4 linked regions of the Homo sapiens genome follow. The protein of the gene in region 2 purifies or fractionates together with the protein of the main gene of each other region. This does not show direct contact. Each region holds a gene or a part of one and is shown on either strand. Other genes may lie near its edges. The genes, in order: PDS5B, SLC30A4, CIP2A and PDS5A.

Region 1 (7,025 bases), on a different chromosome or scaffold from region 2:
AACAGAAAAAGCTTGTAAGGTTATTTGATTGTAATAACAATTACAAATGTCTGTATTAAAAGGCTTGATAGTTCTGAAATGGATCACAGTGAAAATGAAGATTACACAATGTCTTCACCTTTGCCGGGGAAAAAAAGTGACAAGAGAGACGACTCTGATCTTGTAAGGGTGAGATATTTGCATTGATTTTATAATAATATTAATGATAATTTTACTTAGTAATGTTTACACTGAAACCAGTTAACATGACTATCAAATTTACATTTTATTTTATTTTATTTTAGTGGTTTTAACCACAAACCTGAGTTTATAATTATCCTCTATGTAATTTAAGTATATAGAATCTGTGCTTCTTATCAATGTGATAAGTAATCTCAATTGTTCAGATTTTTGGTATTAGACTTGCCAGTTGCATACTCAACTGCTTGGTTTTTGTATTGTTTTCCTCATTTGCTTGTGGTTTTGTTGTTGTTGTTGTTTTTGTTAACATAGGATATTTAGACTTAGCCTTAGAGAAGGGGAATGGAATGAGGACCCTTAAAACTTCTTTCATTTAATTTATTTCTTGAGCCTTTTACTAAATAAGCTGCTGTTAAAGGTAGAAAATGCTATAGTTCTCGTCAAGTCCTTGTTCAGTTTTTAAATCTTAATAGAAATGATAAAATGATAACTTGTATGATAGACAGTTTGTGTTGTTTTAAGACAAATTTGTTAAGTTTTAGCATAGACACAAAATACAGTTATGTCTTCTAACACAACTCAATGGACTTAACTGGGTTTGTTTTGACTTTACAGTTCAGCTTCAGATCATTTCCTTAATAACTAATTAGGCTATCAGAATCAATTTTCTTATCTGTATGTAAATTATGGATACTTAGCTGGTAAGCTTTATCAGAGTAAGTGACTTAGCCAAAATGAATTGCTGCTGCTGTTTCATTGTTACGACTTTTGATTATGGTTATCATAATAATAAAAGTTAAAATGTTCGAATCTACGTGATTAAGAGAGGTGAGAGGTTAACCAAGAAATAATTACTTTTACTTTCTCTAAAATATTACTGCCCATCTTCCACGAGTCCAGCATTACACATGCCAAGAAGTTTATTTTCATGTTTCTCCAATAACTTATTTTGGCAGAGTGTTTATTTCCATTTAGAAAGAATTATTCTTTTTTGTTTTGTTTTGTTTTGTTTTTTGAGACACAGTCTCACTTTGTCGCCCAGGCTGGAGTGCAGTGGCACGATCTGGGCTCACTGCAACCTCCGCTTCCCGGGTTCAGGTGATTCTCTTGCATCACCCTCCTGGGTAACTGGGACCACAGGCATGTGCCAGCATGCGTAGCCAATTTTTGTATTTTTTAAAGGCGGGGTTTCACCATGTTGGCCAGGCTGGTCTCAAACGCCTGATGTCAGGTGATCTGCCTGCCTTGGCCTCCCAAAGTGCTGGGATTACAGGCTTGAGCCATACTGCCCGCTGTGAAAGAATTATTCTAAAATTTTATTGAATTCTAACTATGTATACTGTAAGTTACGATGTTTATTGGCTGTTTAAAATTTTCACATGAGCAAAATTAAGAATTGATCACTTAGCTTGGAAACAATCTTGTTATCTGGATTTACAGAAGAAAATCCTTGAATTGGAAAAGGTATTATGTCTTCTTAGTTCTCACTTACTGCAGAAATTCCTTTATTATTAATGAGAGCTGGTCACCACGTTGAAAATGCTTTAAGCAGAGAGCTCATGATGTATTTCATTTGTTGGAAAAGTCAACTAGGTCACTCATACCCACACCTATAGTGTACTACACTTATACCTTGGTGTTCCCATCCCCCAAAAGTTGGGAAACATGGTTTTTATTAATTCTTAATATTCTGTTATCCTATAAATTTTGCATCTGCTTTTACCTTTTGGGATAGTACAGAACAAAGTCTACTCTATTTTTCATAGAACTGTTTTGAATTTTTGAGCTCTTGAGACCTATTAGTATGATTGTAATGGAGGCCTTTTGCTATTTGTTGTGGCATGGATAATGTGTAACGTTAGGTCCAGTTTTAGAGGTGCTAGAAGAATCTTATTAATAAGCTAGTTTTGACTGAAGTGCCCTCAGAGAGATGAGTATTATGAGACACAAGTTGAATTTAAAGACCAGTAGATTATAATGAAAGAGCACGGTCTCATTTGCTTGTTACCAGCTTCTCATTGAAATTTCACAGCAAAGGAATTATTTTCCATATACGTTTGTATTTAAATATTTAGCTTTATAAATAAAATATTTTCCTGTCTTTTGCTTCTAACCTCGGTTTTATACTCCCTCTGTTCTTAAAACAGTGCAATGCAAAATGAAAAAGAAATAAGTAGTGGTGCTTTAGGAAACTAGATTAGTATTCTCAAGAAAGTAGACATTGGGTTTTCTTTTTACCACCAACCTTTTCCAGAGCTTAAAGGAAATCATCTACCTTTTTAGATCTTTGGACATCAAAAAGAATTATAGTAATTAAAATAAGAAGTGACATTTTAAATTTAGTTCTAATTTAACATTTCTTTTACCTTCTTATCTTTGAGTAAAAACAGTTAATTTTTAATTTGTGCACAAAACTCTAAATAAATAAAACAAACTAAATCCAGTCATGTATAGATCTTCCCCTCTCCTTAGAATGTAAGGATAGCTTAATGTTACCAAATCTTTTACTATGATAGTATATTAAATAAACCAAAGGGAAAACCAAAAACAAAATAATTTCAGATCATGCCAAGAGGACATAAATAAAACTTAAGATCCGTTCTTGACAAATAGGAACTTTTAGTAAACTAGTACCAGAAGGATACATCTTTAATGTGCTAAAAGTTTTGTCTATTTTAAATCAGTAGTCAATGCCATTCTTCCTAAAGGCAAAATACTTGAAGCATTCTTTTTAAAAATCAGGAACAAAACAAGCAACCTGCTGTCACCACTGTTTTTAAAAATTGCTCTAGAATGTTTGACCAATTGTTATTTTTGTAATCTTAGAAAAATAAAAGAAGCAATTGAAAATCTATCCCTACCTATGTATATATTTATGTTTGTAACTAACATTACTCTGATAATTTTGGTTTGTATCAGATGTACATTTAGGGGAAAAGGGATTATTTTCTTCATCACAAGAACCAGTGCAACAACAAACATAGATTGACTGATTGACAGATTCATAGATTTAAATATAACCTTTAAAAGAAATAGGGAGTACCTATATGTAGAAAATCTCAAAACTGAGATAGGGAGGACCTATATGTAGAAAATCTCAAAACTGGAAGACTTGAAGAGAGAGAAGACAGGCCATGTTCTTGTATAGGAGAAAGGAATAAAAAAGGATGAAAGTTTTTTTCAACTGAATATATAATTGCAAAATTCCAGCATGGTTTTGTTTCAAGTCTATGTGGAGGAATAAATAAATATAAAAGGAGGAGAAATAAAGGTAGGTTCAGCCCTACCAGATACATAATTATACTTAGTAAAATATTGTGCTTCTGTTATGATAGCCCAGAAATATTATTCTTGTTCAAAACATATAAAATAAAGGAAGCACTACAAATCATTGATTCTGAAATGGTTGGATGTGTCTTTGGGAGTGGAAAATCCAGTTTAGAATCTCATCTCACATTCTGTTCTAAAACAATACACAATAATGTCTTAGTCAGCTCAAGCTGCCATTATAAAATACCAAATACCACAGACTGGGTAGCTTAAACAACAGAACTATATTTTCTTACAGTTCTGGAGGCTGGAAGTACAAGATCAAGGTGCCAGCAGATTTGGTTCCTGATGAGGGCTGTCTTCCTGGGTTACAGATGCCACCTTCTCCTGTGTCCTCACATGAGAGGTGTGGGGTGGGAGGAAGAAGAAAGGCACCCAAGCTCACTGATGTTTCCTCTTATAAGGACACTAATCTCATCATGAGGGTGCCACCTCATGACCTCATCTCAACGAAATACCTCCCAAAGGCCCCATCTCCAAATACTGTCACATTGGGATTAGAGCTTGAACATACAATTTTTTTCTTTGGTGGTGGGGGCCACAATTCAGTCCAAAGCAAGTAAGAAATAACACTTAAAGGACAGGTGCAATGACACCTGTAATCCCAGCACTTTGGGAGGCCGAGGCAGGCGGATCACCTGAGTTTAGGAGTTTGAAACCAGCCTGGCCAACACGGCAAAACCCCATCTCTGCTAAAAATACAAAAATTAGCCACGCATGGTGGCACATGCCTCTAGTCCCAGCTACTCGGGAGGCTGAGGCAAGAGAATCGCTTGAACCCGGGAGGCAGAGGTTGCAGTGAGCCAAGATTGACCCACTGCACTCCAGCCTGGGTGACAGAGCGAGACTCTGTCTCAAAAAAAAAAAAAAGAAAAAAAAAAAAAGCTGGGTGCAGTGGCTCATGCCTGTAATCCCAGCACTTTGGGAGGCCGAGGCGGGCGGATCACAAGGTCAGGAGATTGAGACCATCCTGGCTAACACGGTGAAACCCCGTCTCTACTAAAAAAATACAAAAAAAAAAAAAAAAAAAAAAATTAGCCAGGCGTGGTTGCAGACACCTGTAGTCCCAGCTACTCGGGAGAAGGCTGAGACAGGAGAATGGCGTGAACCTGGGAGGCGGAGCTTGCAGTGAGCAGAGATGGTGCCACTGCACTCCAGCCTGGGTGACAGAGTGAGACTCCATCTCAAAAATAATAAAAGATAATATTAATAATAAAGAAATAACACTTAAAAATAAGCATAGAGGCATACACAAAAGCATAGAGGAATATAGAGAAAACCCACTAACACCGCAGTAGTCAAAGTTGACAAAGGACACAATACGAAGGATGTAATTAGGCAGTTCACATACAGGAAGCTCAATTTAAAGTTAGAAAAAGTTACAGATAATTCGATAGTTTTTGTTGTTTTCAGTGATTTTTGAAAATATAAATTGCGCAGACTTTTGGAAATTAACTTTGTATTATAAGTGTTCATACATACAATTTATTCTTGGGTCTTTGGAGAATTTCTTCAGCCTTCACGCTGGTTCACATATAGATTCTCTGAATATAGACTAGGATTTTATTTTAAATGTGAAAGCCACTGGTTTTTTGTTGTTTCTGTTGTTAATCAGTTAGTTATACCTAGAAAGAAGCAGTATTTCTAATTCAGAAGTGTTTCCAAAATTTATAATAAATGATGAATATGTTTACCTTTTGTATCTTGCAACCTCCATTTGTAAAATAATAGTTCTTTTATGATGTTGTAAGCATGTCATATAGTTAATATTTTATGTCTTACGCACTATGTGGTAAAATTAGAATTACTTAAATTGACTATCCAAACAGATACTTTAGTATAGTTGTCATTTAGGACCAAGCACTGAATTTATAATGCTCTTTTTAATGAGATAGCTCTTCACTAAAATTTATAATTTAGTAAGATACTGATCTTGAGAGGTTTCCTTTTAAGACACTCTAGCTGAAAAGTAAGAGTGCAAATGTACCCTTTTATCCCAGATAAGTTTTTAAAATTAAAAACTATAATAAAAGCAAATAAATACAGTTCTGGTGTATTTAAGAGCTGTATATTTTAGGTACATATCTAGGACAACATTAGATAACAGATTTTTTTGTTTCATTCCTCAAAATATGTATACTCACAATTTCATAACCATAAATTGTGATTTTTTTTTTCCCCTAGTCTGAATTGGAGAAGCCTAGAGGCAGGAAAAAAACGCCCGTCACAGAACAGGAGGAGAAATTAGGTATGGATGACTTGACTAAGTTGGTACAGGAACAGAAACCTAAAGGCAGTCAGCGAAGTCGGAAAAGAGGCCATACGGCTTCAGAATCTGATGAACAGCAGTGGCCTGAGGAAAAGAGGCTCAAAGAAGATATATTAGAAAATGAAGATGAACAGAATAGTCCGCCAAAAAAGGGTAAAAGAGGCCGACCACCAAAACCTCTTGGTGGAGGTACACCAAAAGAAGAGCCAACAATGAAAACTTCTAAAAAAGGAAGCAAAAAAAAATCTGGACCTCCAGCACCAGAGGAGGAGGAAGAAGAAGAAAGACAAAGTGGAAATACGGAACAGAAGTCCAAAAGCAAACAGCACCGAGTGTCAAGGAGAGCACAGCAGAGGTAAGCATGTGTAACTCTAAACTGCATCTGTTTCGTTACTATATTATAAATCATAATTTGATGCTATCCACATTTGGGTCTTCCCCAAAGCAGAGCAGAATCTCCTGAATCTAGTGCAATTGAATCCACACAGTCCACACCACAGAAAGGACGAGGAAGACCATCAAAAACGCCATCACCATCACAACCAAAAAAAAATGTGTAAGTTGTAAATATTACATTTCAAACCAATTTCAAATTATTTTGCAAAAGTTCCTAAATTTGTAAACATACATATTGCTGTATTTAAATTCCATATATTTAGCCCCATTACACTAGGTAAGATAAAATTTTTATAAACTTACCTTAGTGATTGATATCTCAATAAACTATCTTGTACATTTTTACAGGTGCAGGCAAATCTTCATAAATGAATACCAAATAGTATATTATTTCCTATACAGACTTTATGATATCTAAAGAAATCATAAGGTATTTTTAAATAATCACCACACATTGACCAGGTTGCCTTGTCATTCCACACTACAATTTTTTTTTTAAATGTTTCTCATTAGCACCTTTTCCTTTAAAAAAAGGAAAATAGGTCTTATGCTTCTGCTTTTATTCTTTGAACTTGTAGTAGGAAAGTAACAGGTACCATTTTTTAAAAATTATATCCATAGAAATTAACACATGTTGGTCTCAAGTGTTTGATATCTTGATTTTGTTTGTTTTCTAACCCAGTTCATTTATCTACATCAACATGTATATAGTTTTAGATGTTCACACAAACACATTTATAAGAGAGGTACAGTAAGAATCTGTACCTCAAATTTTAGTGTCACCAGAGTATCACTGCTGTAATTTGCAGATCTGACAGTGTTTTTTCTCCTTAGTTATGTGAGTGGAAAT
Region 2 (7,025 bases):
AGTAGCTGGGACCATAGGTGCTCACCACCATGTCCAGCTAATTTTTAATGTGTTTTTTAGAGATAGAGTCTTGATCCTCTTGTAGTTCATGAGCTTGATAATTAGGTGTTCACATACATGTGTGAGACGTGCCACCCTGGAACCTTGTTACAACGTTGGCACATTACCCATTTGACATGAAGGGAAGGGAAAAACCAAGAGAGACGGAGTCTCACTATGTTGCCTAGGCTGATCTCAAACTCATGGGCTCAAGTGATCCTTCCGTCTCAGCCTCCCAAAGTGTTGGAGGATTACAGGCATGAGCCACCACACCTTACCTGTTACTGACTTTTGAGTGTACTTTTTTCTATCAAGAAATTAGTCTGTGATCACATACGTGACAAATATTTTTTCTCATTTTGTCATTTTCTACCTTGTGCATGGTCTGTAAATATACATAATTTGACCCTGGAGAGAGAGGAGTGGAGGGTAGGGAGAGGTAAGGGTAAATTAGTGGAGGATCCATATCAGTCAAGCTGCTAACCACTTTTTTTTTCTGTAAGTGCTAAACACATTTTAAATAAGAAAAATGATTAGCCAGGTGTGGTGGCATGTGCCTATAGTACCAGCTACTTGGAGGCTGAGATGGGAGGATCACTTGAGCCTGGGAGATCAAGGCTGCAGTGAACCATGCATGATCAGGCCACTACATTCCAGCCTGGGTGACAGAGTGAGACCCTGTCTCAAAAAAATAAATAAGAAAAATGACGTGACAGAAACAATAGAGGGCTTTTATCTCCTTAGAGGAAAGAATATAAAAAAGACTATATAATATTTAGTTGGTATGAAGTGTAGTAACCATGCTGAAAATGTATTTGTTATATGTGTTTTTCCCTCTAGAGGTTTTGTCAGCTATGATTAGTGTGCTGTTGGTGTATATACTTATGGGATTCCTCTTATATGAAGCTGTGCAAAGAACTATCCATATGAACTATGAAATAAATGGAGATATAATGCTCATCACCGCAGCTGTTGGAGTTGCAGTTAATGTAATGTAAGCTCTATTTTTTTCACATTAATATTTTCAAGTACTGTGAACTCAGAGACTATTGCATATGCATTCAGTAATATTCAGTGATATTTTGATATTTTAAAAATGATATAACTCATTAACTTTTCTGATAAATGAAACACTATGGACGTTATAAATTCCTCATTAGTTTGCCCAGGTATATTGGAGATTGAGTCAAAATCATGAATTTAAGTAGGACAAAGTTTTTTGTTCTTGTTTAACTTTTAGAATACTTTTGTGTTAACTAGATTTTTTTTCTTAAGCTATCAATTTTTTTCCCTTAAAACTTTTTAGGGAAGAAAGTTTTGAAAGTTTAAGTTAGGCCACATACAGTGGTTCACACCTATAGTCCCAACAATTTGGGAGGCCAAGGTGGGAAGATCACTTGCGCTCTAGAGTTCAAGACAGCCTGGCCAACATAGTGAGACCTCATCTCTTCTAAAAATAAAAATTAGCCAGGCACGGTGGCTCGTGCCTATGGTCCCAGCCACTTGGGAGGCTAAAGTGGGAAGGTCACTTGAGCACAGGCAATCAAGACTGCATTGAGCTATGATTGGGCCACTGCACTCCAGCCTGGGCAACAGAGCAAAACCCTGTCTTAAAAACAAACAAACAAAAAATAATAAAGTTGAAGTTAACAGATTTAATCATTTAGACCAGAGTCAGCAATTTTTTTTCTGTAAAAGGCTAGATAGTAAATATTTTAAGCTTTGAGATCTATATATTCTCTTTCAAAGCTACTCAACACTTGTTATAAAACAAAAGCAGCCACACTTAGCATGTAAACAAATGAACATGGCTGTGTTCCAATAAAACTTTATGTACAAAAAAAAAATCAGTGAGCCAAATATGATCTACCAGCCACAGTTTACCAATCCCTGCCCTAGTGGCTTCTATTTGTACTTAGAATGAAATGAATTTTTTTCTAAATTTTATTATTATTATACTTTAAGTTTTAGGGTACATGTGCACAACGTGCAGGTTTGTTACATATGTATACATGTGCCATGTTGGTGTGCTGTACCCATTAACTCGTCATTTAGCATTAGGTATATCTCCTAATGCTATCCCTCCCCCCTCCCCCCACCCCACAACAGTCCCTGAATGTAATCAAATTTTTACTGCAGCCTTGTTAGTAAGACTCTGTGTACCTCTACCACTCATCTCCTAGCACTTTTGCTCACTTTATTCTGGCCCACAGTGGCTGCTTTCTTTTTTCAAGTACACAGAGCACATTTTCATGTTGGGGCCTTTGCTCTGCTATTCTTCCGCCTAGAACACTCTTCCACCACTTGCTCTCTGACCTCCTTCAGGTATCTGCTTAGAGAAAATCTGAGAGGCCTTCCCTTACCACTCTGCCCATCATCCTCCATCCCCTTACAATGCTTTATGTTTCTCCAAAGCATTTCACATTGCCTGGCTATACCTTATGTACTTATTTGTTGGCTTCTCTGCCTTCTCTACTAGAACATAAGCTCCATGGGGGTAGGGATATGTCTATCTTACCACTGTTTTGACCCAAGTACCTAGAACAGTACTGATAAATAATAGTTGCTCCAAATTTATTAAATAAATGAGTTCCATGTTACCTCATTAGTGTCTGACTAGTGACAAATGTTTTTGTCAATATTGGGAAAAATAATAATGTTTTCTTTTATTTTTAACAGAATGGGGTTTCTGTTGAACCAGTCTGGTCACCGTCACTCCCATTCCCACTCCCTGCCTTCAAATTCCCCTACCAGAGGTTCTGGGTGTGAACGTAACCATGGGCAGGATAGCCTGGCAGTGAGAGCTGCATTTGTACATGCTTTGGGAGATTTGGTACAGAGTGTTGGTGTGCTAATAGCTGCATACATCATACGATTCAAGGTAATATGATTGGTAATTTTTCTATTTTAAAATGTACTTAATTTCAACATGAAAACTAAGGCTGATTGTCATATCAGTATACTGGACACCAGTGCCAGTTCTATTCATTTTACATTGATGTAAGTTTACTTGACAATCATTATAGTTCTTTTGTTAGCAGTAAACAAAATGATATCACGTCACAGGGTAACTTATCTGTATTTGGCTTTTGTAGTGCCTTCACTGGATAAATCAATTTTCTTATTTATTTATTTATTTATTTATTTTTGAGACAGAGTCTCACTTTCTCGCCCAGGCTGGAATGCAGTGGCACAATCTTGGCTTACTGCAGCCTCCGCCTCCCAGGCTCAAGTGATTGTCATGCCCCAGCCTCCCAAGTAGCTGGGATTACAGGTACACACCACCATGCCCAGCTAATTTTTGTATTTTTAGTAGAGACAAGGTTTCGCCATGTTGGCCAGGCTGGTCTCGAATTCCTGGCCTCAAGTGATCCACCCACCTCAGCCTCCCATAGTGCTGAGATTACGGGCATGAGCCACCATGATTGCCCAGATAACTCAATTTTAAAACTCGTGATTGAATTACTAGGTAGTAAAATGTGCACTGGACTGAAAATCCAGAGATCTGAGTGGGTTCTAGTCTTGGCTCTGCCATTAATGCTTTGACCTTGAAAGCAAATACCTGAACTCTAAACTTGAGTTCCCTCTTCTTTATTACAAGGGGCTTAAACTAGTGGCTGCTAAAACTTTTTCCAGAGCTGAGTACAGTGGCTGTGCCTATAATCCCAGCTGAGGCTGGAGGATCAGTTGAGCCCAGGAGTTCAAGAGCAACCTGGGCAACACACACACACACACACACACACACACACACACACACACACTTTTTTCCAGCTTTGACACACACACACACACACACACACACACACACACTTACTTCTTTCCAGCTCTGATATTCTAGAACATTTAGAGATGGCACAAGGAACAATAGAACAAGTGATTACATTTCTGGAAATAGGTCCCATGAGGCAAGTAACGTAAACTGTCTAGGATAGAGTGAAGATGCTTTTCAATTACAATATCCAAGTTTTAAAGGTATTCTGTAATTCTGCTAAAGAAAATCAAGCAAGAAGGGACATATTCCTTGCTTTGCTTTGCAGTCTGTTTTATATTTGTCTATTTAATCATAAATTTTGATCTATTACCCTTTAGCCAGAATACAAGATTGCTGACCCCATCTGTACATACGTATTTTCATTACTTGTGGCTTTTACAACATTTCGAATCATATGGGATACAGTAGTTATAATACTAGAAGGTAAGATCTCACTATATCCTCATTATGAGTTTATTACTTCCCTAAAGCAGATTGGGAGTCAGGGGACATTCTGAATAGGAATTACATCTTTTGCTTTTTACTAATACCTTTTAGGCTATATAACAGTACCTTACATGTATGTAACATGTAAGAATTAATGAACTCTCCCATCTTTTACCCATTTGACACTTATAATAGCTAAGCAAAGTAGGTAAGGCAGATAATGTGGTAAATTATCCCCATTTACAAATAAGAAAATTGAGGTTCAGAGGGATAACATACTTTGGTTAAGGTCATGTTGCTAATAAACTGTGGCACTAGGACAAAAATGCAATTCTAGATTATGTATTAATTCCTTAATTCCCACTTAACTTGTGACTTTGTTGTATTTACTGCATTCTTCCCTTACTGATATTATGTGTAAGCATGAAAATAAAAGTTCTTAACAATAGGCTTATTATCATTATATGTTCTTTTCTTTTCTTTTTTCCTTTTTTTTTTCTTAGTTTATCTGTTAATGAAGTATTCTGGTTTGATTGGCATTCCTTTTTAGTGAGAATGAATATGTTTTTAAAGTATGTATTACCCTCTTGTATATATCTTACATTTTTAATAAAAATATATGTGTACATGGTTTATCTTGAAGTATTAATATTTTAAAGTATTTGTTTAAAGTGAATTTAGCAAAGCCATTTGTTTTCTTTGATAAATGTCATCGGTAATGTAAAAGTTCCTTTATTTCCAAAATAAATTTTACTTAGAAATTATATATTCCTAATAGGTGTGCCAAGCCATTTGAATGTAGACTATATCAAAGAAGCCTTGATGAAAATAGAAGATGTATATTCAGTCGAAGATTTAAATATCTGGTCTCTCACTTCAGGAAAATCTACTGCCATAGTTCACATACAGCTAAGTATGTTGCTGGTAGTAAATGTGGGCCTGGGGTTGGTGGACTTCTGCCTTTGAAACTAAACATCCCTGCTTATAATTATGTAGGAAGACTTTTCTGCTGAAAAGATTTGTTTTAAGACAAAAGCCTTTGTCTTTAAAAAACAAAGGCTTTTGTTAACAGCCTTAAACAAAAGGCTCTTTAAAGGGTAAGTTGCAGGTCAGTATTGATACCAGAACAATAATTTTCTATCTCTTTGAGATATTACAAACTGATTTTAACCTTCAGATTAAAGGTATTAAGAATATTTCCTGACTGGCATGGTGGCTCGCACCTGTAATCCTAGCACTTTGGAAGGCTGAGGCGGGTGGATCACCTGAGGTCAGGAGTTTGAGACCAGCCTGGCCAACATGGTGAAACCCCGTCTCTACTAAAAATACAAAAATTAGCTAGGCGTGGTGGTGCATGCCTGTAATCCCAGCTACTTGGGAGGCTGAGGCAGGAGAATTGCCTGAACTCATGAAGCGGAGGTTGCAGTGAGCCGAGATTGCGCCACTGCAGTCTAGTCTGGGTGACAGAGCAAGACTCCATCTCGGAAAAAAAAAGAATATTTCCCGGCCTGGCGCGTTGACTCACGCCTGTAATCCCAACACTTTGGGAGGCCAAGGTGGGTGGATCACCTGAGGTCAGGAGTTCAAGAACAGCCTGGCCAACATGATGAAACCCCATCTCTACTAAAAAATACAAAAATTAGCCAGTCGTGGTGACACGTGCCTGTAATCCCAGCTACTCGGGAGGCTGAGGCAGGAGAATTGCTTGCACTCAGGACACAGAGGCTACAGTAAGCCAAGATGGCGCCATTGTACTCCAGCCTGGGCAACAAGAGCGAAACTCCATCTTAAAAAAAAAAAAAAAAGAAAGAATATTTCCCATGCTCTTTTCTACATAGGAAAAGCTAGATTCTTACATTTTTATTTCTTCAAGTCATTTCACAGATTGATGCTATTGATGCTTTTTAAATCAAAATAATACATGCATGAGGTTTACTTTTAATGTGCACAAGATATTTTAATGACAGGTTTGTAACTGATGTCTGGTATTTTTTCTCTACCTGAGAGTAGACTGGAGAGGTTAGAATAATGAGAAGCCATTAAGGATGTGTAAATTGACCTACTTATCTAACAGAATAGCTTAGAGAGGGTAGAAATCAGACTAATAAAAATATATTCCCAGTATATTTCAGTTGTTTTTTTCCCTGTATCTTATTCAAGATGTAACTGTACAATGGATAGTAATGATATTTTCTTGACATTGCAGTTCCTGGAAGTTCATCTAAATGGGAGGAAGTACAGTCCAAAGCAAACCATTTATTATTGAACACATTTGGCATGTATAGATGTACTATTCAGCTTCAGAGTTACAGGCAAGAAGTGGACAGAACTTGTGCAAATTGTCAGAGTTCTAGTCCCTAATTTTATGTATTTTGGGAACTCCTGCCTTATTTATCCTGCAGTCACAGACTTGAGAGCAATAAATGCAAACCTAAATGAGAAAATGGAATCCCTGACAGCTGTGTCCGTATCAAGCATCAGTCTCTCAAACAGTTGCCCCAGCCTGACAGTGCTAGTCTCTGTTTAATGGTAAAAGGAGACTTTGCCATAATTTTCAGATGAAGATGTTTCCCAAACACTGTTTACAGAATGAGATGTGACTCTACAGATACCTCATAGAAGACAATCCAAGATCATACTTCATTAACTTGACAGAGTACGTGTCTTAAAGGAAGCATCAAGAATTCAATATTTGCATTTAAAAATACTTTTTAAGGCCATTTTATATTAAGCCAGTGCTGGAAAACTGAATTTTTTTTATTATGTATAATAATCTCGACACCCAGCT
Region 3 (7,025 bases), on a different chromosome or scaffold from region 2:
CTGCAGTAATATGAAATTCCCAGCAGATACAAATGGAATCTATACAACTTGATATTATTTATAATGAATGAATTATAATAAAGTGTTCCTGGCTTTTGAAAGATGCATCAAAATAAGTGACTAGTAAAATGCCTCTTAAGTCTCTTCAGAATAATGGTATTCTTTTTTTCCCCCATATTTCTTTCTTTTTTGCTTATTTTAACATGGTTTCATTTGTCTTAACTGGTATGTTGAATTTGTCACAAATTACAAGAAAGAACATTAGTGATATTAAAATAATTTTTCCCTCTCCCCATAGCACATTCTTATATTTTCTGTCTGTTGGACATGTCTTGTATTTTATTAGAGAGTTTAATATTTTATTCATGTTACTGGAAAAGTTCTTATAAAAATAGCACTAAATAACTGGATACAGGTTCTTCACAAAGTCGTAAAAACAGAGAAAGGCTTAGGGTTTTGTCTAGCATTGTAAAATAAAATCCAAAGGGCTGGGGGGAACCAACTTTTTATTCTAGCGACTTTTCTGCTTTTTTAGTGTTTCATATCACATAATAAATACATGCAGGTTATGGTATAGGTTACATTCTTTGATTATACTAGCTTAATTTTAAGTGTTTGATTAAGCATCTGTGATGTCGTTAAGATTTTGTTCTTAATTCTCACCTGAAATGAGAATGCTGATGGTGTGCACACTTAGCAGTTTAGTGTTAATGGCTACCTCTGAGGACCATACCTTTTTAATTGAATACTGTATGTAGCGCGACCTTCATGTTGCTGCAGTTGTATCCATTTCCATTAATTTGATCATAGTGAGATTGTTTTTATCAGATAATGTATTAAGTTAAAAAAATATAACAGTATCCAACTTATTAGAAGTAAAGTCCTAAGTATATGTGACTAATACAGCTTTGCATGACCCAACAGATACCAGCTTATTAGATACTTAGTAAACTTTTAAATTGTAGGTATGTGTTGAGCATATGATATAGATGATAGTGGTAAAGTCTATCTTCTTTTTTTTTTTGAGGCACGGACACTTGCTAGTATGTTGAGAGAAGTTGAGAGAAAAAATGAAGAGCTTAGTGTGTTGCTGAAGGCGCAGCAAGTTGAATCAGAAAGAGCGCAGAGTGATATTGAGCATCTCTTTCAACATAATAGGAAGTTAGAGTCTGTGGCTGAAGAACATGAAATACTGACAAAATCCTACATGGAACTTCTTCAGAGGTAAATAAAGTAAAATCTTCTGTGTAAGGTTAGAACCTAGAATGAACATGCAGCATTTCTTTTCTGAGACCCGAAAATCCTTTTGTAAGCATTTCATATATTCTGATAACACATGAGGTAAGTAATTAGCAAGAAACTTAAGTCATTGTGAAATGAAGTGTTGCTTCCTCAAACTCAGTATCAATGTTGGAAACAAAATACAGGTCTTTCCAGTTGACTTCTTTTATGTATTCATAACAGTCAGCAGTCATTTGGGAGATAAGCTCCACAAGGACAAGTTTGTCTGTTTTGATCACTGACAGATCCCTAGGGCCTGTAGGAGTGCTTGCTGCATAGTTAGGCACTTCATTAATAATTTTTAAATAAACTTAGTTGTCAAATTAGTATTAGGTTGAATGGTCATTTCTGCAGATCAAAAGTAGTTGAATATTGGCAATTTCATATCATTCTGCCTAATAGAATGGAAATTTAGGTGTAAGTGTTTAACTCATCTCTTAATATCCTTGATTATAGTTTACTTCCATGTGTGATTACATCTGTAGAATAAGTTCACATAGGTGAATTGCTAAGTTAAAGGGTATGTATATTTAATATTTTGATAGATATTTCTAAATTTTCCTCCAAAATGTGATACAGATTGAGTGTCCTTTTTGAACACAATGGTAGCACTCAAAAAGTTTAATATTTTGGAGCACTTTTGATTTTAGACTGATTTTGGATTTTCAAATTAGTGTTGCTCAACCTGTACCAATTTGTGTGCCTACTAGCAAAGTTTGATTGGTTTTTCCTCCCTTATAAACTCTTTTATCTTTTTAGGCCAGTTGTAAAACTTCTGAATTACAGGGAAGACCAGGAACAATTATGTATTTTCTACCAACCCATAAAAGTAAATACACTCTGGGGGAACTTGTTTATTGCTTTATATTTTAAGATTGTTCTATGTTGTTAATACAGAGATATAGAAATTTTTAGCTTGGCATGGTACATATGCTTATTTCCCATCAATAATAATGAAGGGTGAGAAATGAATAGTATCTAGAAAATGATGACAAAGTGATTTTTTAACAGGATATTTACCCCAGCAACTTTTTACAAAGTCTGATTGTTTGAGGCACCACTGATAAAGTGTAGTATTAGTGATAAGCCAAGTTGAGAACGTCAGCAGTGAAGAAAATACGTTATAGAACTGAAATGGGTTCCATTTGCTCAATACAGTAAAACCAGGTATCTGCACCAAGGTTTGCAGTGATAGAAAAAAAGGCTTTTACTGCAGGGTGCCAAGTAAGGAGGAGCAGGCAGCCAAATGCTCAAATACTGACCTCCCCAATAGCTTGCAAGCAAGGATTTTTAAAGGCGAGTAAATTTCAGGAAAGTGGAAGTTACAGACAAAAATCATAAATAAATAGTTAAAGGTTATACATTGGTTTAAGTTTAAAGGACAGGATATTGTGAAGCAGGGGCTTACAGGTCATGGGTAGACCCAAAGATTTTTCGATTTGCAGTTGGTTAAGGAAGAGCAGCTTTGTTTAAACATTTGGGGTCAGTAGAAAAATGTTAACTAGCTAGGGAGAGTGACTTTGTTCAAGACCCTGAGAAAGAAACTTAGAACAAAGAACAGTGGTTAAAATTCAGCCTTCATTTTCTCCTTACCTGAGCTCTACTTGTCAATGGATCTGGTCAGTGGGCTTCCTCAATGAGGGTCCGGGTCTCTGAAATACAACTCAGGGACATGTGTTAAGTTGTTTTCTTTAAGTTCTATAAAGAATCAAGTATCACTGGTACTCTTAAGTTTGTTAACTTTGATTTAGGCTACTATTACCTTCCTGTTTAACAAGTTACTTATTTACTTCTAGGGCTATCTAGGTCCCTGGAATTTCCCTTGAGTGAACTCAGGATTTTCCTTTATTTTCCAGCTTGAGGTCCTCAGACCTCCTAAAAAGGGGATACCTGCTTTGTCTCACATAGAGAACCTAAGAGATAGGCAGCGTCCAAGAAAAATACGTGGTTTCTAAGACCTGCTTATGTTCCAGCTAGTGATTTAGGGGCTAGAAGGTGAAATTCCTTGAATGGACAAGTGGATAACATGTAAATGAAGCTGGCTGGGGAAAAGGTCATTTGTAATGGTCAGGACTGTCTAAAGGCACTCAAACTCAGATTGTTAAAATTCCTGTATGGATTAGATACAAAAACTGCTGGCCAAGTTTGGCTACTGGTTTTTTTTGTTTGTTTTGGTTTGGTTTTTGGGTTGCTTTTTAAAAATCTTTGTGCTTAGTGAAATAAAAAAGACATTTTATGCTTATGGTAGTTGAGTATCAAAGTATTACTTTAGAAAGGATTTTTTTCTGTGTTTACCTTGCAGGTAAAATACTTAGGACTATTAGATGCAGAGTTTTAAAGAGACAAATGTAGAACCCTAAACTTATTTATAGCAAATTATGTAATGCAATATCATCTGTAAAATAAGGCTTTATATCCATAAATATGAGATTAATGCCCCACACATTTCTATTTCATAGTAATTTTTACCACATCAGTCAACCAAAACATGTATTTACTGCCTTTTAGAGTAGATGAAATTCTGTTTATGTCCTGCTTGTTCATAACATTCCTTCTCTTCCAGCATATGCAATTTGGTTAGAAGAGATAGTAAAGAAAACACTGTGAGCTTCTTTTCTCCTTCATATGTTTTCCTCCATAATGATGCCAACTCATTTTCTTGTCTTTTCAGAAATGAAAGTACTGAAAAGAAGAATAAAGATTTACAGATCACATGTGATTCTCTGAATAAACAAATTGAGACAGTGAAAAAGTTGAATGAGTCACTCAAGGAACAAAATGAAAAGTAAAATCTCTAGTTCTATATTCTGAATATGTGGGATTTTTCAAAAACAAAATGATTCCCTTTATATAGAACATTGTTTTTTATTGATAAAATTAATAGAATTGTCACTTATTTTAGATATAAGATATGTATTTGGTGGAAGTTACAGGCAATTGCTGTTCTTAGAAATTTTGTTTTAAAGGCTGGGCATGGTAGCTCACGCCTATAATCCCAGCACTTTGGGAGGCTGAGGTGGGTGGAGCGCATGAGGTCAGGAGTTTGAGACCAGCGTGGCCAACATGGCGAAACTCTGTAAATACTGAAAATACAAAAATTAGCTGGGTGTTGTGGCGGGTGCCTGTAATCTCCGCTACCCAGAAGGCTGAGGCAGGAGAATCACTTGAGCCCGGGAGGCAGAGGTTGCAGTGAGCACAAGATCATGCCACTGCACTCCAGCCTGGGTGACAGAACGAGACCTTTTTTTTTTTTTTTTTTTTTTTATATTTTTAGTAGAGACGGGGTTTCACCATGTTAGCCAGGATGGTCTCGATCTCCTGACCTTGTGATCTGCCCGCCTTGGCCTCCCAAAGTGCTTGGTAGGGAGAAAAAGTTACAAATGGTATATGGTTCATTAATGTTTTCTTCTATTTTTTTTAATAACTTCAGAAGTATTGCCCAATTAATAGAGAAAGAAGAACAGAGAAAAGAAGTACAGAATCAGCTAGTAGACAGAGAACATAAGCTAGCAAGTAAGTGGCTTCTTATTTAATACATTTTCTATTTTTAATGTATTTATTTTGGAAGCATGAGTGGTTTTGTTTGCTTTTTTATTTTCTACTTATTGTTTTAAACTTTAAATCATATTTGGAATGGCTTCCCTTTTCTTGACATAATGTTTCACAAAAGCAGTTCGGTTTAATCAAGTTGAAAAAGTGGTACGTTTTTTAAATTTAGGAGCTATAAGAAATTGGCCAGGCACAGTGGCTCACTCCTGTAATCCCAGCACTTTGGGAGTTGGAGATGGGTAGATTGCTTGAGCTCAGGAGTTTGAGACCAGCCTGAGCAACATGGTGAAACCCCATCTCTACAAAAAATACAAAAATTTAGCCAGGTGTGTTAGTGTGCACCTGTAGTTCCAGCTACTCAGGAAGCTACAGTGGGAGAATCTCTTGAACCTGGATGTCAAGGCTGCAGTGAGCTATGTTCACGCCACTGCACTCCAACCTGGGTGACAAAGCAAGACTGTCTCAAAAAAAAAAAAAAAAAAAAAAAAAACAAAAGGAAAGAGATGATTGACCATTTAATTTAATTTAATTTTTTTATTATTTCAACTTTTAGAATCAGGGGGCATGTGTGCAGGTCTGTTACACTGGGTATATTGCATGACACGGATGTTTGGGGTATGGATCTCATCACCCAGGTAGTAAGCATAGTACCAAATAGGTAGCAATAGGTAATTTTCAACCTCCTGCCAACTCTAGTCTGCAGTGTCTATTGGTTCCATCTTTAAGTCTGTGTGTACTCAATGTTTAGTTCCCACTTAGAAGTGAAAACTTGGAGTATTTGGTTTTCTGTTCCTTCGTTAAATCACATAGGATTATGGATTGCCCTTTTCAAAATAAAAAAATGTTGAAGGAACGTAACAGCAGGTGGCAGTATTAGGTAACTTTTAGTTACTAGCTTCTTAATGGTATATTTGAAATGATCCTGAAAAACATTTTTGTTCTCACTTGCCTTAGAGCGCAGGCACCTACCTATATAATTTTTCATAGTTGTAGCTCTCCCTTTTCTAACCCTTACACTTTTGAGAATTGTCCTTTACCTATATAGCATATTATATTTAGAACAGAGGATGGAAGAAAGACATGGAGATTTGGTATTTTCTATAGAATACTGTCATAAGAGAAGTTTCTCTTCCTTGTTCTAGTTATTTCTCTTTTGCTCTTACAGTAGCTACTAGACCATTTCAGAGTAGTCAGTGTAAGACCTCTGAGTATAATACTTGACTTTTTTTTCTTTTAAGATTTGCATCAAAAAACAAAAGTACAAGAAGAAAAGATTAAAACCTTACAAAAGGAAAGGGAAGATAAGGAAGAAACCATTGATATCCTTAGAAAAGAATTAAGCAGAACAGAACAGATAAGAAAAGAGTTGAGCATTAAGGTAAGAATCTGTTCCATTTCTCATTTGCAGTAAAATAAAAAAGTCTGTTGTGAAAAGGGTGAATATGGATAAAGGAATGTACTGTTTCTTCAGCAAATTTTTTAGAAGATATTAGGATCTCAAAGCAGCTTGAGTATCATTTGTTATGAGGTTTTCATAATGTATTTTCTAAAATAGTTAAGCAGTTATTAAACAGATACTTTGTGTCAGCACCTGGTATTTTCAAGTGTGCAAAGAATACAGAAAGGGGTTACCAGTACTTGATGTCATATATAGGTAGCTGTATAATTTTCACTTTAACAAATATTATATAATGTGTTAATAAATATTTTCAACTTACAACTGAAGAAACTGAGTCTGAGGTTACTTACTAAAGTCACACAGCTAATAAGTGAATCAATAGGTATATATTCTGAATCTGAGTCCGGGGTTCTTTCTATATTACCATGGTTGCATAGCTTGAGTGGTAGCTATGAATTGTACTTTCTGGCCCGTTTACTACCAGGAAGATGAGAACAGACTAGGATTAAAGACTGATCTACTACTACTACTGAGTAACAGAAGAGGCATAAAATTTAGTACCACATTTACAGTTTTTCTGGTTCTGCTTTAATGTGATTATCTTATTAGTAATTTTAATATGTAGTGTGTAGTATTTTCTGCAAAATTTCAGCTGCTGGCATTAACTTAAGACAAGTTGAAAGTGTATTCTCAATTTGTATTATATTGTTTAATGATTATTCATTTTAAACTTACCATGTAATTGAATTAACTGAAGTATAATATTTATAGTATGTCTTGAAATGGTTGTTGTACA
Region 4 (7,652 bases), on a different chromosome or scaffold from region 2:
GTTGGCCAGGCTGGTCTCAAACTCCTGACCTGAGGTTATCTGCCTGCCTCGGCCCCCCAAAGTGCTGGGAGTACAGGCGTGAGCCACCGTGCTCAGGTCTTTTTTTTTTTTTTAGACGGAGTCTTTCTCTGTCGCCCAGGCTGGAGTGCAGTGGTGCAATTTCGGCTCACTGCAACCCCTGCTTCCCAGAGTCAGGCAATTCTGATGCCTCAGCCTCCCAAGTAGCTAGGACTACAGGTGTGCGCCACCCCACCAGGCTAATTTTTGCATATATATATATATGCAAATATATATATATATATTAGTAGAGATGAGGTTTTGCCATGTTGGTCAGGAGCTCTAGAATTTGTATATAGAAGGAGCTGTAGTGAAATTGGGGGTTAGGGGTTTGTCCTCAAATTGCATTGGACGCAATTTTGTACATAGATTATATAACTGAATGTATGTGTGAGGGGGACACTGATTGAAATTATGTGGGAGGTAGAATAAAGACTCACAAAGCCACCCCTTTGTGCAATTATTAACCACATAAAACTCTTTGATTTTTTTATTTTATTTTATTAAAAAAAATTATGTAGAGCTTAGTATATGCGAGTTACTATTCTAGGCATTTTACAAATATTAACTTATGGCCAGGCGCAGGGGCTCACACCTGTAATCTTAGCACTTTGGGAGGCCAAGGCGGGCGGATCACCTGAGGTCGGGAGTTCAAGAGCAGCCTGGCCAACATGGTGAAATCCCATCACACTAAAAATACAAAAAATTGCTGGGCATGGTGGTGCGTGCCTGTAATCACAGCTACTAGGGAAGCTGAGGCAAGAGAATCACTTGAACCTGGGAGGCAGAGGTTGCAGTGAGCCGAGACTGCAACACTGCACTCCAGCCTGGGCGACAGAAAAAAAAATTAAGTTATGTATTCCTCATAATGATCATGTGAGGAAGATACTATCATTATCCTTGTTTTACAGATGAAGAAAATGAGGCACAGAAGAATTAAGTGGTTTGACCAACATTGCCTAACTCAGGACATACATCATATCACCTCTTTGCTTAAAACAGTCCATTAGTTCCCCACCTCAATCAGAGGATAGCCACAGTCTTACCAGAGGTCTAAAAGGCTACATGTGATCTGTACTCTCTCTCACTCCAGGGAGTCTCACTCTGTCGCCCAGGCTGGAGTGCAGTGGTGCTTTCTCAGCTCGCTGCAACCTCCATCTCCCCGGTTCAAACGATTCTCCTGCCTCAGCCTTCTTAGTAGCTGGGATTACAGACATGTGCCAGTGCGCCTGCCTAATTTTTGTATTTTTAGTGGAGACAGGGTTTCACCATGTTGGTCAGGCTGGTCTGGAACTCCTGACCTCAGGTGATCCACCCACCTCGGCTTCCCAAAGTGCTGGGATTACAGTCCTGAGCCACCGTGCCTGAGCCACTGAGTCTAATTTTTTGTCTTTTTAATAGAGATGGGGTTTCACCATGCTGGCCAGGCTGGTCTGAAACTCGTGACCTCAAATAGTCTGCCTGCCTCCCCCTCCCAAAGTGCTGGGATTACAGGTGCGAGCCACCGTGCCCAACTCTTCCCTACTTTATTTTCATATACATGTATTATTGTTATTTTGGTCTATTTCTCCCCAAACAAATTAAGGTCCACCAGGAGGGCAGGCCTTCATTTGTGAAACAATTATTTAAAGAGGCCTATAATATAAGGCATTGTTTTGGGCACTGAGCGGGGAAGAAAAGCTTGGTGGAGGTTGGGTGCAGTGGCTCATGCCTGTAATTCCAGCACTTTGGGAGCCCAAGGTGGGTGGATCACCTAAGGTCAAGAGTTCGAGACCAGGCTGGCCAACATGGTAAAACCCTGTCTCTACTAAAAGTACAAAAATTAGCCAGGCGTGGTGGCGCATGCCTGTAGTCCCAGATCTTGGGAGGCTGACGCAGGAGATCTGCTTGAACCCAGGAGGCGTAGGTTGCAGTGCGCCCAGATTGTACCACTGCACTCCAGCCTGGGCAACAGAGCAAGACTTCGTCTCGAAAAAATAAAATAGGCCAGGCGCAGGGGCTCACACCTGTAATCCCAGCACTTTGGGAGGCCGAGGCGGGCAAATCACGAGGTCAGGAATTCGAGATCAGCCTGGCCAATATGGTGAAACTCCATCTCTACTAAAAATATAAAAATAAGCTGGGCGTGGTGGTGTACGCCTGTAGTCCCAGCTACTTGGGAGACTGAGGCAGATGAATCGCTTGAACCTGGGAGGCAGAGGTGAAGTGAACCGAGATCGCACCACTGCACTCAAGCCTGGTGATAGAGTGAGACTCCATGTTAAAAAAAAAAAAAAAGAAATCAACCAGTAAGGCCAGGCACGGTGGCTCAAGCCTGTAATCCCAGCACTTTGGGAGGGTGAGGCGGGCAGATTACCTGAGGTCAGGAGTTTGAGACCAGCCTGACCAACATGGTGAAACCCTGTCTCTACTAAAAATAACAAAAATTAGCCGGGCATAGTGGCGGGCGCCTGTAATCCCAGCTACTTGGGAGGGTGAGGCAGGAGAATTGCTTGAACCCAGAAGTCAGAGGTTGTAGTGAGCCAAGATCACACCACCACACTCCAGCCTGGGCGACAGAGGGAGACTCTGTCTCAAAAAAAAATTAGCCCGGTATGGTGGCACACACCTGTAGTCCCAACTACTTGGGGGCCTGAGGCACAAAAGTCGCTTGAACCTGGGAGGCGGATGCTGTAGTGAGCCGAGATCATGCCACTGCACTGCAGTCTGGGCGACAAAGTGAGACTTCATCTCAAAAAATAATAAAATAATATAAAAAATAAATAAAATAAAATATATGTACATATACAAAACTCCATTTAATAATGGGCAAGCTACTGAGGAGGATGAAAGATAAAATCATTGTTGTTTAATTAAATGTAACACACAAAGAAATATCAAATTTGGCCGGGCGCGGTGGCTCATGCCTGTAATCCCAGCACTCTGGGAGGCCGAGGCGGGCGGATCACTAGCTCAGGAGATCGAGACCATCCTGGCTAACATGGTGAAACCCCGTCTCTACTAAAAATACAAAAAAAAAAAATTAGCCGGGCGTGGTGGCGGGCGCCTGTAGTCCCAGCTACTCGGAAGACTGAGGCAGGAGAATGGCGTGAACCCGGGAGGCAGAGCTTGCAGTGAGCCGATATCACGCCACTGCACTCCAGCCTGGGTGACAGAGTAAGATTCCGTCTCAAAAGAAAAAAATAAATATCAAAAGTGACAGGGAGAGCCTAAAAAGAGAGCAGCTTTTGGTCCACTTAATAGTTTGGATGAGGACACTTTTAAATGGATTCTGCCTGGTACTGTAAATGCCCAAGAACAAAGCATTGACTTTTGGGCAGAGTTCTAGCAAATCAGCAACTGTGGAGTGTCAGATTCGCAATGACTGCTCTTGTGTAATACGTCAAAAACAAGTCAGTGAGCTGAAATGCAGTACCTTTACTATTTTTAAGTTGACGTTAAAGGATGTGGGAAAAAAATAGACCAATGGGTACCCATCAAGAATAATTTGAATAAACAATCGAATATCATTTTAAACTATGGTAGTGGTCAGTTTCAAGAGCTGAATGTGATTTCATATTATCGTATCCTTTTTTCAACTTTCTCTTCGGAAATTTTGTGTATGCTCTTGATTTTTTTTAAATAGGTAAGTGTATGTTCTTGCGTTAATTTGTTTCAATTACATACATTAAATTGCTCAAACACTGCTGCGTGCACTGTTTTTACCTGATAGTGGTTTTCCTTTGGATGACAGAAAACGTTAATGCTTGGTAGGTTTAAAACATTTTTAAAAAATGAGCTCTTCCTTATTTACAAGAATCACCCACCCAATTAATAAATGCTTATTTCTGGGTTCCACTCTCAGAGATTTTTATGTTTATGTATATTTTTATATTTTTTAGTGTTTTATTTTATATGTTATATTTTTATATGTTTTATGTTCATATATATTTTTACGTTAAAAAAACATATATTTTTATGTTTTTTAATCTTTGGAGTTGGAAACCTACGTTTTCAGCCAGTACCCAAAGTGATTGTGAGGCCTGGTGGCCCAAAGACCATACCTTGAGAACGACTCGACCCAATGCTATTTTCATGTTTTGCAGCTTTCAAAATATTAACTTCAGAAATCTAAGGAGGGTGGGCAACTCGGGTGGCTGTCAGAAGACCCGAGAGTGAGCCGCTCACGCTGCGCCCCATTGCACAACTTTCCTTGACTTTGCAGATCTCTCCCTGAGGAGGAAATCAGTTCATTTTCACCGAGCAATTAACTACCTCCCAACCAGTTTCGTCTATGTCCCTCAGGATGACCCCCAAAAGTCACCAGCTCATCGCCGCTGCGAAAGATAAAGCACTGTTTGCCCTGCGTGCCCTCGCAAGGCCGCGGGAACCTGGGCTCGCTTCCCGCCACCCGGGCTCCTCCTCCTCTCGCCCTCTCCGGTCGGGTCCTCCGGGAGGCGCCCCGCGCGGCAGGTATTGGCGCCAACCGGGTGGCGGCGCTGTCCGCCCTGCGCGCGGCCGCCTCGGGCCCGAGGGAGGCGGATGCACGGCCGGCGGAGGAAGGGGAGGGAGCGAGGAGCGCGCGCTGCTCTCGCGTGCTCTCGCGCCGCTCGCGTGACCGGCCGGTGTGTGCGCGAGGCCCCGGCTCCCGGGGCACGGACGGCCGGGCGCGCGCCTCTGCGAGGGGCGTCCGGGTCCGAGTCGGCGGTCCGGGCCGGCGCGAGGTGCGTGCGGGCGGGCCGCGGGGGTCCCGGACGGACACAAGCGCACACACTCCCGGAGGAGCCTTCGAGGCTGCTCTTCCTCGGCCAGACGGAGAGCGGCACTGTCTCCCCGCCCAGCGCTCACTCGCCCCGCGTCTCCCCCCGCGGCGGCTGCTCCTCCTCGGCACCGCCAGCCCCAGCGCCGCTCCCGGGCGGGCGGGCGGCGGCGGCGGCGGCGGCGGGACCCGCGGAGCCGCTTTGTGTGCAGCCCGACTAGGGGCGGCGGCGCAACCACCTGACAGAGGCCCGGGCGCTCGATGCACCTTCCGCCCGCATGAGGAGGAGGTAAAGGCGGCGGCGGCTCGGCTCCCGCCCTAGGCTGCTGGAGGGAGGGGACGGAAGGGGAGACTGGAGGGGGGGGCCGCGGGTCCGAGGCCCGGTGGGGCCGCCCGAGGGTGCCGGGAAGGCCTCGGCGGTGCCGGAGGCGCCAAGCGGCCGGGGGCCAGAGAAGCAGCTGGGGTCCCTCAGCCGAAGTTGAAGGAACAAAATGTGAAGTGCGGAGGCGCGTCAGCCGCTTCCTGGCGTGGGGCTGAGGGTGGAGGGCGGCTTGTTTTCCCCTCCCGCGGGGGTGAGGGAGCGGAACAGGGGAGGGGTGGCAGCGCGGCGGGGACTACCCCGGGTCCGAGGCTCGGCTGGGCAAGGGCGTTTTGTTCCCGGCAGCCGCCGCTGCGCGTGGGTCCGCTGGGTCCCTAGTTTTGCGGCCTAAGCCGAGCCCTATAGGCCTCGGGTCTGGTTTCCCGGAGGGGACTGGCCGGGCGGGACTGGGTGCTTCCCCACCGCCGAGCGGGGGCCTTGGGGTCCTTGCCGGCCTCCCGGGGCCGCCAAACTTCGGACCCTGGTGCTCGGGGGTGGATTTCATTGTGAAAGGCGGAATGGGAAACTCCTGGCGCTGTTCGGCGGCCACGGCGGCTGGTGCGGAGGAGCCCCGTGAGCCTGGGGCTGGCAGGGCCGGGTTGGCGGGGCCGGCGGGGTTCGATCCCTGGGAAAGAGCGGGTGGCGAGGCCGCTGCCGGGTCCCCGGCCTCTGGGGAGACAGGGCCTTTTCCAGATTAGAGAGATTTGAAATGAAAAAAGAGGTTACAAAGTCGCCCCTTTCCCGCTGAACTTTGGTTTTCTGACCGATAGAGGCCGGTAGAGGACTGTGAACCAAAAGTTGTCCCCCAGGATGGACTTCACCGCGCAGCCCAAGCCTGCCACTGCCCTCTGTGGCGTCGTGAGTGCCGACGGGAAGATCGCTTACCCTCCGGGGGTAAAAGAGATCACCGACAAGATCACCACGGACGAGATGATCAAACGCCTGAAGGTAAGTGTCTGGACGGATTTTGATGTCTTTGGTAGAAGGCGCTTTCTCCTGTGATACTGCTACCCTGCTCAGTCTGGCCTTTAAAGTTCCAAGTTTTTTAGATCTCTTACCCCCTCTGAAAGGTACTGTTGTATCTCAGATAACATCTTTGAGTGAGTTTTGTAGGGATATAACCATTGTGGGAAATTTAAAAGGAGTGTGATTTTTCAAAAACTTACTGGTTTTCAAGCATAAGAATTTGTGTTTTTAGAGTTTTTTCTGGAGGTATTTAATGAGAATACTGTTCAGAGTGGCTTGCAAACTTAGGTGTAGGCAGTAATTTGCCTAAGAAGTTTACTATTTTCAGCTTCTGAAGGGGATTGATTAAAGCGCAAAGTCCTTTTTAAAAATTTGCATAATTTTCTATATCCAGAAGCTTAAATATGTATATATGGTGGTTAAACTTTGACAGAAGGTACAGACTTTTCATAATTCAGGCTTAAAGTAAGATGATTTAAGTCTATACGTTCAAAGGAGTTTAAGAGTATTATGGCCCTTTTTATGAGGTGTCAGCTAATTTTGTTTAAGCATGGCAGTCCTAAGGTTAAGGTTTTAAATTTCAACCTCATGTTTGTTAGTTTTTTTGGTTTCTGTTCCACTGACATAGATTGTGGCCAGAATCTTAACAAATAAGTAATATTCTTCTTGTAGGAACAGCTTGAAGCAGTGGTTCTGAGTCAGGGCAACTTTGACCTCCAGGAGATGTTTGGCAATGCTGGAGACATTTTGGTTGTCACAATTGGTGCTAGATTGGAGTAGGGGAAGACCAGAGGCAGTGAGTCCGGCTAGGAAACTGTAAACAGTAGTCTAGGTGAAAGACGTTGAAATCTTCAGGTAGGGCTATGGCATTGGTAATAGTGACTAGGAAATGATTTAACAACTTTTCAGAGTTAGAATCAATCAGAATTGGTGGGAGGTGAGGGAAGCAACATTGTTGACAATGTTTCCACCTTGGGCCACTTGGCCAAATGTATTTTAGGGAATGAGCTTGGCCTCTTGCTCTTGGAGCCCAGTAAATGTACCTAATGTTGCATTTTAATGAGTACAGTATTTAAAATATTCCTGTGGTTTAGTTTTCAGACTCTTAATTTGGTTCTGCAATTTGTTGCCTTTTTGGAAGGAATAAGACAACAGTTCCTTTCATTAAAACAAATCTGTGTGCGGCGGCGGGATCTCAGCTCACTGCAACCTCCACTTCCCAGGTTCAAGCTATTCTGCCTCAGCCTCCCAAGTAGCTGGGACTACCAGCGTGTGCCACCACACCCGGCTAAATTTTTTTTTTTTTTTTTTTTTTGAGACGGAGTCTTGCTCTGTCACCTAGGCTGGAGTGCAGTGGCGCGTCTCGGCCCACTGCAACCTCCACCTCCCGGGTTCAAGCAATTCTGCCTCAGCCTCTCTAGTAGCTGGGATTACAGGTGCCTGCCACCACGCCCAGCTAATTTTTGTATTTTTAGTAGAGATGGGATTTCACTATGTTGGTCACTTTGGTCTCGATCTCCTGACTTCGAATGA

Evidence for each region.
Region 1: the proteins of SLC30A4 (region 2) and PDS5B purify together in Homo sapiens (affinity purification with mass spectrometry; 5 studies listed by BioGRID and IntAct, with this or other methods). This does not show direct contact.
Region 3: the proteins of SLC30A4 (region 2) and CIP2A purify together in Homo sapiens (affinity purification with mass spectrometry; 4 studies listed by BioGRID and IntAct, with this or other methods). This does not show direct contact.
Region 4: the proteins of SLC30A4 (region 2) and PDS5A purify together in Homo sapiens (affinity purification with mass spectrometry; 5 studies listed by BioGRID and IntAct, with this or other methods). This does not show direct contact.

The regions. Positions count from the first base shown.
Region 1 is NC_000013.11:32,764,427-32,771,451, forward strand, and holds part of PDS5B (sister chromatid cohesion protein PDS5 homolog B), read left to right. Parts: intron 1-62; coding exon 63-168; intron 169-5,694; coding exon 5,695-6,134; intron 6,135-6,224; coding exon of another isoform or gene 6,225-6,227; coding exon 6,228-6,335; intron 6,336-7,025. UniProt on the Homo sapiens protein: Regulator of sister chromatid cohesion in mitosis which may stabilize cohesin complex association with chromatin. May couple sister chromatid cohesion during mitosis to DNA replication.
Region 2 is NC_000015.10:45,484,736-45,491,760, reverse strand, and holds part of SLC30A4 (probable proton-coupled zinc antiporter SLC30A4), read left to right. Parts: intron 1-73; exon of another isoform or gene 74-177; intron 178-879; coding exon 880-1,033; intron 1,034-2,718; coding exon 2,719-2,920; intron 2,921-4,128; coding exon 4,129-4,234; intron 4,235-5,015; coding exon 5,016-5,150; intron 5,151-6,443; coding exon 6,444-6,598; 3' UTR 6,599-7,025. UniProt on the Homo sapiens protein: Probable proton-coupled zinc ion antiporter mediating zinc import from cytoplasm potentially into the endocytic compartment. Controls zinc deposition in milk.
Region 3 is NC_000003.12:108,551,417-108,558,441, reverse strand, and holds part of CIP2A (protein CIP2A), read left to right. Parts: intron 1-1,027; coding exon 1,028-1,224; intron 1,225-3,952; coding exon 3,953-4,066; intron 4,067-4,711; coding exon 4,712-4,794; intron 4,795-6,068; coding exon 6,069-6,208; intron 6,209-7,025.
Region 4 is NC_000004.12:39,974,889-39,982,540, reverse strand, and holds the start of PDS5A (sister chromatid cohesion protein PDS5 homolog A), read left to right. Parts: upstream 1-4,629; 5' UTR 4,630-5,084; intron 5,085-5,272; exon of another isoform or gene 5,273-5,293; intron 5,294-5,923; 5' UTR 5,924-5,963; coding exon 5,964-6,101; intron 6,102-7,652. UniProt on the Homo sapiens protein: Probable regulator of sister chromatid cohesion in mitosis which may stabilize cohesin complex association with chromatin. May couple sister chromatid cohesion during mitosis to DNA replication.